2 linked regions of the Homo sapiens genome follow. The protein of the gene in region 1 interacts with the protein of each later gene in a pairwise test. Each region holds a gene or a part of one and is shown on either strand. Other genes may lie near its edges. The genes, in order: NUDT1 and ACY1.

Region 1 (6,712 bases):
AAGGACTTAGAACGGTGCGCGGTGTGCGGTGCGTGCTGAGTGCGTGTTAGCTGTTGTGGTGCGGTGGTGCTGGGGGCTGCAGGGCGTATCTGGAAGCCTCTGTGCAGCAGCTTGAATTGAACCCTCCCAGCACCCTCACTGTTGCCGAAGGGCTCGTCAGTCACTTGGTTCCTCTGTCTGTTCAGTGGAGCTGATGATCGCTTTCATCTCACACTCGCTGTGCACAAAGCCTCACTGCATCCTCAACACAGCCAGCTTCACCTAGGAAGGAACTGAAGCCCAGAGAGGTTGAGCCGTTTACCCAAGATCACACAGTCCTCCAGACGCCCCTCAACCCTCACAGGGTAAATGAGATCATCTGTGTAAACATCGCTGCACAGACGTTAGCCCCCGTTCGTGTTTTTGTTCTGAGAAAGGTAGGCCAGCTTGCCTGGAGAGGAGAACTACAGAGTAAAGAGGGTCCTGGCACGGAGGAAAGCCAGGACGCTGCAGCCTAGTGGCTTTCCAATTTTTTCATCACAACCTGCAGTAAGAAATACGTTTTGTACTCTGATAGAGTGTACACACTCAGGTGTGCAGGTACAGCTAAAGTAAGTTGCAGTAGCCGCCCTTATTACATAAAAGGGGGCTCTACTTTTCCGATTCATTTCTCTTTTTTTCTCCAGAGGTGGGATCTCACCCATGGCACACTCTTGGCTCACTGCAGCCTCAAACTCTTGGGCTCAAACGATCCTCCTGCCTCAGCCTCACGAACAGCTGGGACCACAGGCACATGCCACCACGCTCAGTTCGTTTTTTAATTCTTTGTAGAGATGGTGTCTCATTAACTCCCAGGCTCAAGCGATCCTCCCTCCCGGGCCTCCCAGAGTGCTGAGATTGCAGGTGTGGGCCACTGGCTTGACCCTTTTTTTTTTTTCAATTGCAATCCACTAAGCCGATTTCCCGGGGTACATGGGTCCCAACCCTCAGTTTGGAGAGCCCTGTGTGTGCTTCCCCTCCAAGGCTTGGGACCCCAGACCGCAGCCACACGGACACGTTCGATCAGTCACTGTGGCAGGTGCCAGTGCGACAGGCTCTGTGCTGGGGGCCGCAGCTGGGGAGGAGGACCACTGGGTGTGAGTCGGGCATACAGCGTGTCCCTGCCAGGAGTGTGTGCAGAGCGACCACAGCACAGGAAACAGGAAAGGTGGCCCCGGGGGTTCTCTGCCCAGCCCTTTGTCTTTGATCTGCTAAGACTGCCCATCAGCTCATGGATTTCTGTAGCGCTGCTCTGTGTGGGGCCTGGGGACATGAGGAGGAACAGGTCAGTCCCTGCCTCTGTGGAGCTCTCGTGTCATCTGGCTGCCGGGTTCAGGAGACCTGCAGAAGGAGGTCTGGTCCATACCTCGTGGCCAGGGGCCTCCAGGAGAAAGGAAGGGAGAATAACTGGGCACCAGGAAAATGCTCTGAGGGCCTGACGTTGGCTGGGAGAGTGTGGAAGGAGGGAGGAAGGAGACATTTGCAGAAGCACAGAGGGCTGGAGGAGCGCCAGCTGTGCAGAGAAGTGGTGGGTGTGAGTGGAGCAGGCAGCGGTGCTGAGGAGGCTGGATGGAGGAACTCCAGGTGGCTGGATTTCCGCTTCTCGTCCTGCTGGTGACAAGCAAAGCACAGGCCCCCTCGGCAGCCCTGCTTTATTTTCTTCTGAACTTTGTCACGGTCGAAGGAACTTTCCTCCTACCCTCTGTAAATATTACACAAACAGAGGGACCATCACTCCAGACCCTCAAAGCTGAATACAGTGGTGGCTTGCTGTCAGACCAGGGTTTGAGGGGGGGAACTGAGGCACAGAGCCGGAAGCCTGTGACTTCCATCCTCGGGTGTAACCTGGAGACGGGGGTTTCACCATGTTGGCCAGGCTGGTCTTGAACACCTGACCTCACGGGATCCACCCGCCTCGGCTTCCCAAAGTGCTGTGATTACAGGCGTGAGCCACCGTGCCCAGCCGAGACCCTGTCTTAAAGAAAGAAAGAAAAAAATCCTTCGTTGGGGAGCATCTGCAAGCATGAGGAATGGGGGACACTGGAGCCAGACAGGCTGGTGCTTAGGGGTCCCAGGGCCCCGGGAACCCAGCAGCAAACAGCCTCGCCCTCAGGGGATGACGTACCATCAGCCACAGGCCACCAGCACGGCCCTGGGCTTCAGTACCTGCGAGTCTGAATGGATTTGCTCCTGGGGCAACCCCAGGCCCGTGCTGCTCAGGAGCGGGAGGCAGGGAGGAGCGTCGGCAGCCCGGTCTCTGGGGAGGCTGGTTCCTGCTTTATCCACGCAATACCCAGTCCTATTCTATCAGGAGGACCCCAAGATGGGCCCTAACTCCCAGGCCAAGAGCCGGTTTAGGCACCCTCCCCGCTTGCCTGCAGGGGGCAGGCCTGAGCGCCTAACCCCAGTCCAGAGGGCTGGACTCAGACCCTCCTCTGTGGGGCAGGGGACAGGCACGTAGGGAGTACTGAATTGTGGGGGTGTGCAGATTTGGGCTTCAGGCGCACAGTGTGAGCCGACCTTTCTAGACAGCATCCCTGGTCCCCAAAGACTAGCGAGGCCGGGGACACAGGAGCAGCGATGGGAAGCAGGCCCGCCGGAACCTCCGACTCCCACCTCCCCACGCCACGGACGCTGCACCACCCTGTGTTTTTGTTTCATGTATTTCTCACCCTGTTCCCCGTGTTCCGCCTGGGGAACCGAGTGCCATGGACAGAGCAGACACTTGGGCAGAACTGAACAGCGTCATCTTCGCCTGCCTGGCGCTCCCTGCCTGGGAAATGGAGCTTCAGCTCTGTCTCCCGGCGGATTCTTGATGCTTCCTACGCTGCCATGTGCTAGGGAAGATTAACTAAAATCAGTCACAATATCCCACTGGGAGGTGACGCTTTTTAAGACGAGCAACAGCCGGCCGCCAAGAGGCGGGTGAGGCCCCACTGAGCACTTCTATTGCATCTAACTGGGGAGCCATTTATACCCAAGTAGAAGCACACGTTCACTTTGTAGCTCAAGCCCAACTTTAATTAGCCATCTGTATGAATAAATGCTGATTCCAGGTCCGTTTCCTCTCCAGTCCCTGCAGTTTAAGCTGAGGAGGCATCGCTTAAATCAGACCATTTAGACCAGGCATGGTGGCTCACACCTGAAATCCCAGCACTTTGGGAGGCCAAAGCAGAAGGATCGCTTGAGCCCAGGAGTTCAGGACCAGCCTGGGCAACATAGCAAGACCCTGTCTCTACAGAAAAACACACACACAGAAAAATTAGCCGGGCATGGTAAGAGGAGGAGACTGAGGTGCCCAGCGGCTGCAGCCCGTGCATCCCCAGGGTCCCAGCACAGAGTGGGTGTTCAGAAGTGTCTGCTGAGGGACTGAGCAAGAACCCGACTGAGCACAGCAAGCAAACGCTCAGAACGGGAGGTCAGCAGCACCGCTGTGCCCAACACGGGTTTCCACCATAACCCGAAGTTGGAACGTTTTATTCTTCCATACCAAACAGGAGTTGAGAAGGCGGCTGGGTTCCTTGAGGTGTGGAATGTCATGCACTCCTCCTTTCTTGCGTGGAAAGCCCGAGGTATAAAGTGTGTATGATGTTTGCTTTTTTTTTTTTTTTTTTTTTTAAGACAGGGTCTAGCTCGGTTGCCCAGGCTGGAGTGCAGTGGAGTAATCCCAGCTCACTGCAGCCTCCAACTCCTGGGCTCAAGCATTCCTCCCATCTCAGTCTCCTGAGGAGCTGGGACTACAGGCGAGTGCCACCATGCCCAGCTAATTTCTGTCCTTTTTGTAGAAACAGGGTTTTGCCATATTGCCCAAGCTGGTCTCAAACTCCGGAGCTCAAGCAATCAATCCTCCCACCTTGGCCTCCAAAAATGCTGGGATTACAGGCATGAGCCACCCTGCACCCAACCTGTTTGCATTTTTATTTTTTAACTTTAAGCTATTAAGGGTTAATGTTTGCATTTCTTAAGGGAAAAACAGAGGAGAAAGAGCCAAAGGAAAAACACTGAAATGGTAGCATTCCTGGGTGATGAGTTTATGGCGTTTTGTTTCCTGGTTGTCTATAACAAATATGTAATTTTTAAATTAGCAACAGCGTTAGACTACTTCGGGGAAACCTGGCTCTGTGTGCCACGAAGCAGGGAAGGGCTTGTTCCCAGGCGCAGCAGCACTTGGGCATCCCGTGGTGAAGTCAGCCCCTTACACCTCCTCCAGGCACAGCTGTGGGGAGCATGTCCCGAGAAGGCGCAGGAAGAGGCCCAGGCCACGTGTCCCGTGTGGTCAGCCTGGGGACCAGAGTTAAAACCAGAGCTCCTCCTTCAGGAAACAGATCATAGAAGCCTGTGGTTTCATCCTGTGTTCTCAGAGAAGAGGCACCAGGCTGGAAAGACATTTCTTTGGGCAGACAGGCCCAGAGTATAGGGCCCAGGTTCCCAGAGCAAGCGTCCCAGGGCCCCGGCGGTCGTAACTACCGCTGCATGGGCTCTGATGCTCAGCCGCGGAAAAGCAAGTAACCGGGAATGAAGGAAGTGGGGTCAGTCCCAACCCTGCCACGTGCGGGTCTCGAGACGGTGGACAAGTGGCTGGACTCCACTGGGCCTGGGCTGTCACTGGTACACAGAGGGCACTGGGCTAGAACTGCGTTCCTCCCACCAGAGGCTCCACACCATCTCCGGGCCCCTCCCCAGAGCCTCTCAACCAAAATCAGTGTCTTCAAAGTTCAAGTTGATTCTGAAGCTCAGCCAGGTCGGGACCAGATAATGCATTCTAGGGGACATCCTCCTGGGTCTCCCATCCACCCTGGTGGCTCCCTGGGCTGTGTGTAGATGCCCAGCTCCTCCTCCCTGCCATCGTGTGGGCATGGCACCATGCCCTGACGGCCTCCCTCCCCTGCCCACCTCTGCCCGCAGGGAGCTGCAGGAGGAGAGCGGTCTGACAGTGGACGCCCTGCACAAGGTGGGCCAGATCGTGTTTGAGTTCGTGGGCGAGCCTGAGCTCATGGACGTGCATGTCTTCTGCACAGACAGCATCCAGGGGACCCCCGTGGAGAGCGACGGTGAGTCTCACAGGGCCTGCTCCCCCTCCCCACTATGCGGGTCCCATCTCCTGGCTGGGAGAAAGGCCATCCGCCCAAACCATCTCTGAGTGCCAGGGACCGGGCAGCCTGCGTCCCCCTCCACCCCACAGTGCCAGCGTGGGGCCCATGAGCCGTGGTCTCTGCACCGAGGCTCCAGTAGCGTACCTGCCCCTGCTCTGCGCCCACCCTAAAATGAGAAACACGGTAATGAGGATGAAATATAAACGATCGTCAGGTTCCTCACGATCACTCAGTGAACTCCTCAGAGAGTCAGTGTACGTTTGGGCTGGCCAGACGCAGTGGCTCACCCCTGTAATCCCAGCACTGTGGACTGTGGGAGGCCGAGGCAGGAGGATCGTTGAGCCCAGGAGTTCAAGACCAGTCTGGGCAACACAGTGAGACCCCATCTCTACAAAAAAACATGGTTTTGTTGTTGTTGCTGTTGTTGTTTTGAGACGAAGTCTCGCTCTGTCGCCCAGGCTGGAGGGCAATGGCGCAATCTCGGCTCACTGCAAGCTCCACCTCCCAGGTTCACACCATTCTCCTGCCTCAGCCTCCCAAGTAGCTGGGACTACAGGCGCCCGCCACCACGCCCGGCTAATTTTTTTGTATTTTTAGTAGAGACGGGGTTTCACCGTGTTAGCCAGGATGGTCTCGATCTCCTGACCTCGTGATCCTCCCGCCTCGGCCTCCCAAAGTGCTGGGATTACAGGCGTGAGCCACCGCGCCCGGCCAAAAAAAACATGTTTTTTAAGCATGAAGTTTGGGTTGCACCTCAGTGCCTCCTCTTCCCCCATTGGTACAGAAATGCGCCCATGCTGGTTCCAGCTGGATCAGATCCCCTTCAAGGACATGTGGCCCGACGACAGCTACTGGTTTCCACTCCTGCTTCAGAAGAAGAAATTCCACGGGTACTTCAAGTTCCAGGGTCAGGACACCATCCTGGACTACACACTCCGCGAGGTGGACACGGTCTAGCGGGAGCCCAGGGCAGCCCCTGGGCAGGAGACGTGGCTGCTGAACAGCCGCAAACCATCTTCACCTGGGGGCATTGAGTGGCGCAGAGCCGGGTTTCATCTGGAATTAACTGGATGGAAGGGAAAATAAAGCTATCTAGCGGTGGTTTTTTTTTTTTTTTTTTGGAGATGGAGTCTCTCTCTGTTGCCCAGGCTGGAGTGCAATGGCACGATCTCGGCTCACGTCAACCTCCGCCTCCCAGGTTCAAGCGATCCTCCCATCTCAGCCTCCCGAAGAGGTGGGATTACAGGCGCACATTGCCACACCCAACTAATATTTGTCTGTTTAGTAGAGATGGGGTTTCACCATGTTGACCAGGCTGGTCTTGAACTCCTGACCTCAGGTGATCCACCTGCCTCAGCCTCCCAAAGTGCTGGGATTCCAGGCGTGAGCCACTGCACCCGGCCGGTCTCTAACCTTTCAAACGTTCTTCTCCAGACACCAGCACAGCCTGCCAGGTCCCGTCCACAGGAAGCTACCAGATGTGCTGGGCTTCAGCCCGCACTGCTGCACAGAGGTGGGAGAGGATGGAGACTCTGTCCCCGAGGTGGGCAGCTGGCCCAGGGCAGAGACACACATGCTCAGTGCCACAAGCTGGGGATGTG
Region 2 (3,455 bases), on another chromosome or scaffold:
GTGGAGGGCCACCGGTTCCCCAGAACCATCCACATGACCTTTGTGCCTGGTAGGAGTGGCTCAGATACCTTTGGGAAAGGGGAGGGTGGGGCGGGGCAGCCTCCTCATCTCACGTCCCTGCTGCTTTTACAGATGAGGAGGTTGGGGGTCACCAAGGCATGGAGCTGTTCGTGCAGCGGCCTGAGTTCCACGCCCTGAGGGCAGGCTTTGCCCTGGATGAGGGTGAGCAGGTTGGCAAGCCAATGAGCAGCCAGGCAGGGAGTAGGAGGCTGCTAGTGGGGACTGAGCTGCTCCACCCTCTGAACCCCCTTTCCCTCCTCAGGCATAGCCAATCCCACTGATGCCTTCACTGTCTTTTATAGTGAGCGGAGTCCCTGGTGTAAGTATGAGCTTGGAGGGAGGGCTCACTCTACAGGCGGGAGGCTAGGCCAGAAAGGGCACGGTCCTATGCAGGGTTGCACAGCAAAGTTGAGGCCTGAGAAGGCCTTGAACCCAGGGCCTCTACCTCCCAGCTCTTTCCTATCTGAGCTTCTCTGAGGGCAAGCCCTGAATGGGCAGAAACCAGCTGTATGCTACGGGCCCTGAGTGGGGACAGGACCCTGCCAGAGGAGCCTGGAATGAGGGGGAGACCTGGGCCCACCCCAGGCTGATTGTGTCTCCAGCCCCTCAGGCTGAAGACACTGCCTTCCCCCTACACCTCCCCAGGGGTGCGGGTTACCAGCACTGGGAGGCCAGGCCATGCCTCACGCTTCATGGAGGACACAGCAGCAGAGAAGCTGGTACGTGGCACCCCAGGAGGGAGTCTGGGAGTTCAGGAGGCTCTATCCTGAGGCCACTGTCCCATTTAACCTCATATTCTCATAGCACAAGGTTGTAAACTCCATCCTGGCATTCCGGGAGAAGGAATGGCAGAGGTGAGGCAGCCTGGGAGGCAGTGGGGTGGCTCTGGGAGGCGGTACCACAGAGGATAGAGTCTGAGCCACCTCTTTTATCTGTTGCTGCCGCTACCCTGCCCCCACACCACAGGCTGCAGTCAAACCCCCACCTGAAAGAGGGGTCCGTGACCTCCGTGAACCTGACTAAGCTAGAGGGTGGCGTGGCCTATAACGTGATACCTGCCACCATGAGCGCCAGCTTTGACTTCCGTGTGGCACCGGATGTGGACTTCAAGGTGCCACCTCCACCTGGGTTTGGAGGAGGGATCCTGGGTCCTCAGTCTTGTCCTAGAGGCCTCTGGAAAGCCTGAAGGATCAGCTCGTCTCCCTTCTCTTAGGCTTTTGAGGAGCAGCTGCAGAGCTGGTGCCAGGCAGCTGGCGAGGGGGTCACCCTAGAGTTTGCTCAGGTATGGACTTGGGACATGTGATGGGAGAGTGTGGGAGCCGGGGGAGACCCAAGTGTGCAACAGTGGAGTGTGTGCTTGGTGTGTCTGCATATGTCTGGGCATTTCTTTATCTGTGACAGACACATTTTATTCCAACAAGCATTCATTGTAGAGGCCACTGTGGGTGCTGGGGAATGCTGTGGGGAGTAAAATTAGGCACAGTTCATGCCCTTGTATGGTGAAACGGGGAGATATAAATCAAACATTTATGTGATATTACTTTTTTCTGAGAGAATCTCACTCCGTCACCCAGGCTGCAGTGCAGTGGCACAATCTCGGCTCACCTCCGCCTCCCGGGTTCAAGCAATTCTTGTGCCTCAGCCTCCAGAGTAGTTGGGATTACAGGCACCTGCCACCACGCCCAGCTAATTTTTGCATTTTTAGTAGAGACAGTGTTTCACCATGTTGGCCAGGCTTGTCTCGAACTCCTGGCCTCAAGTGATCCACCCACCTTGGCCTCGCAAAATGCTGGGATTACAGGCATGAGCCACTGCGCCCAGCCGTACTTTCATATAACCCATGTGGTACAGGAAAGGGTGGCCCCTTGCACTCTGAAAACCTGTAACTGGAGTATCCAACTAGTCTGAGAGGTCTGGGGGAGCCATCTTGAGGAAGGGGCACTTGGGCTAGGATCTGAAGGATGGACAGGAGGTAAGTAGACGGAGGGTGGGAAGGTCCCAGACCTAGGACATTTGAGGGGCTGAAAGAGGACCTGTGGCTGGACTGGCTACCCAGATGTCTGGGTAGGTGAAGGAGTGGGGGTGGGGAGGTGTTATGTACTAGGCACAGCCCACTCTATGGGAAATAGGGCAAGATGCCCAGGCCCATGTCCTGATCCTGCCATTCTTCCTGTCCCTCAGAAGTGGATGCACCCCCAAGTGACACCTACTGATGACTCAAACCCTTGGTGGGCAGCTTTTAGCCGGGTCTGCAAGGATATGTGAGCACGCTGGCCAGCTCTCCTCACAGCCCAGCCCCCTACTCCTCTCCTTCCTGCTGCCCCCTCCCTTCTCCCTCCTTCTCCCACCTCTTTCCCACCTTCCTTTGCCCCTTCAATTCTTCGCTTTCTCCCTCCCCATTCATCAGGCTCTTTCTCCTACAGGAACCTCACTCTGGAGCCTGAGATCATGCCTGCTGCCACTGACAACCGCTATATCCGCGCGGTGAGCCACTTGCATATAGTGCCTGGGCAGTGGACTGGGCCTGAGTGCTGGCTTTTCCCTAACGGCTCTTCCTCACCCCTGCAGGTGGGGGTCCCAGCTCTAGGCTTCTCACCCATGAACCGCACACCTGTGCTGCTGCACGACCACGATGAACGGCTGCATGAGGCTGTGTTCCTCCGTGGGGTGGACATATATACACGCCTGCTGCCTGCCCTTGCCAGTGTGCCTGCCCTGCCCAGTGACAGCTGAGCCCTGGAACTCCTAAACCTTTGCCCCTGGGGCTTCCATCCCAACCAGTGCCAAGGACCTCCTCTTCCCCCTTCCAAATAATAAAGTCTATGGACAGGGCTGTCTCTGAAGTACTAACACAAGGACACTCGTGGAGCAAGAATTTTCCTTTTCCTGGGGACATGTTACCATCTCCATTTCACAGATGAGGAAACTGAGCCTGGCTGTTAGCACTTCCCCACTACCCCACACTGCTCTGTGCCCCTTGACACAGCACACCCATTCAGTACCATCCAGCCATGTCTGTGCCTAGCAAGAAAGGGCCACAGTTCCTATTTGAGTGGCCACCATACTTAGTTCTGACCTATCAGGGATTCCATTCCCATTAAAGAGGGATACTAAGGACCTCAGGAACCACTCCCATCTTCCTGGGTGTACATCTGGGATCCTGAGACAGTACCAGAATAGCACCAGCTGGGCCCCTGCTAGATGAGGGGCAGGCAGAGGGCCAACGGTGACTGCTGGCTCCTGTCAAAACCTGTACACCCTTGTGTTGGCAGCAGGGGCCACAGAGGGGCAGGGTCCCTGGTAGACTAGGTCAGTTCATCTTAGAGGCCTCAGCACCCTGGATCTGTGTGTGCAGAGGCCCAGGAACTGGGCTTTCATCTCAGCCTTGCTAGGAC

Evidence for each region.
Region 2: the proteins of NUDT1 (region 1) and ACY1 interact in binary tests that used the Homo sapiens proteins (3 or more experiments, as listed by UniProt).

Annotation. Positions count from the first base shown.
Region 1 is NC_000007.14:2,244,934-2,251,645, forward strand, and holds the end of NUDT1 (oxidized purine nucleoside triphosphate hydrolase), read left to right. Parts: intron 1-4,377; exon of another isoform or gene 4,378-4,759; intron 4,760-4,923; coding exon 4,924-5,069; intron 5,070-5,708; coding exon of another isoform or gene 5,709-5,764; exon of another isoform or gene 5,765-5,802; intron 5,803-5,895; coding exon 5,896-6,068; 3' UTR 6,069-6,212; downstream 6,213-6,712. UniProt on the Homo sapiens protein: Oxidized purine nucleoside triphosphate hydrolase which is a prominent sanitizer of the oxidized nucleotide pool. Catalyzes the hydrolysis of 2-oxo-dATP (2-hydroxy-dATP) into 2-oxo-dAMP.
Region 2 is NC_000003.12:51,986,283-51,989,737, forward strand, and holds the end of ACY1 (aminoacylase-1), read left to right. Parts: coding exon 1-49; intron 50-132; coding exon 133-222; intron 223-322; coding exon 323-379; intron 380-705; coding exon 706-779; intron 780-864; coding exon 865-914; intron 915-1,026; coding exon 1,027-1,171; intron 1,172-1,273; coding exon 1,274-1,342; intron 1,343-2,241; coding exon 2,242-2,321; intron 2,322-2,483; coding exon 2,484-2,544; intron 2,545-2,628; coding exon 2,629-2,793; 3' UTR 2,794-2,915; downstream 2,916-3,455. Other genes in the region: ABHD14A-ACY1 readthrough (NMD candidate), read left to right, coding at 1-49, 133-222, 323-379, 706-779, 865-914, 1,027-1,171, 1,274-1,342, 2,242-2,321 and 2 more. UniProt on the Homo sapiens protein: Catalyzes the hydrolysis of N-acetylated amino acids to acetate and free amino acids.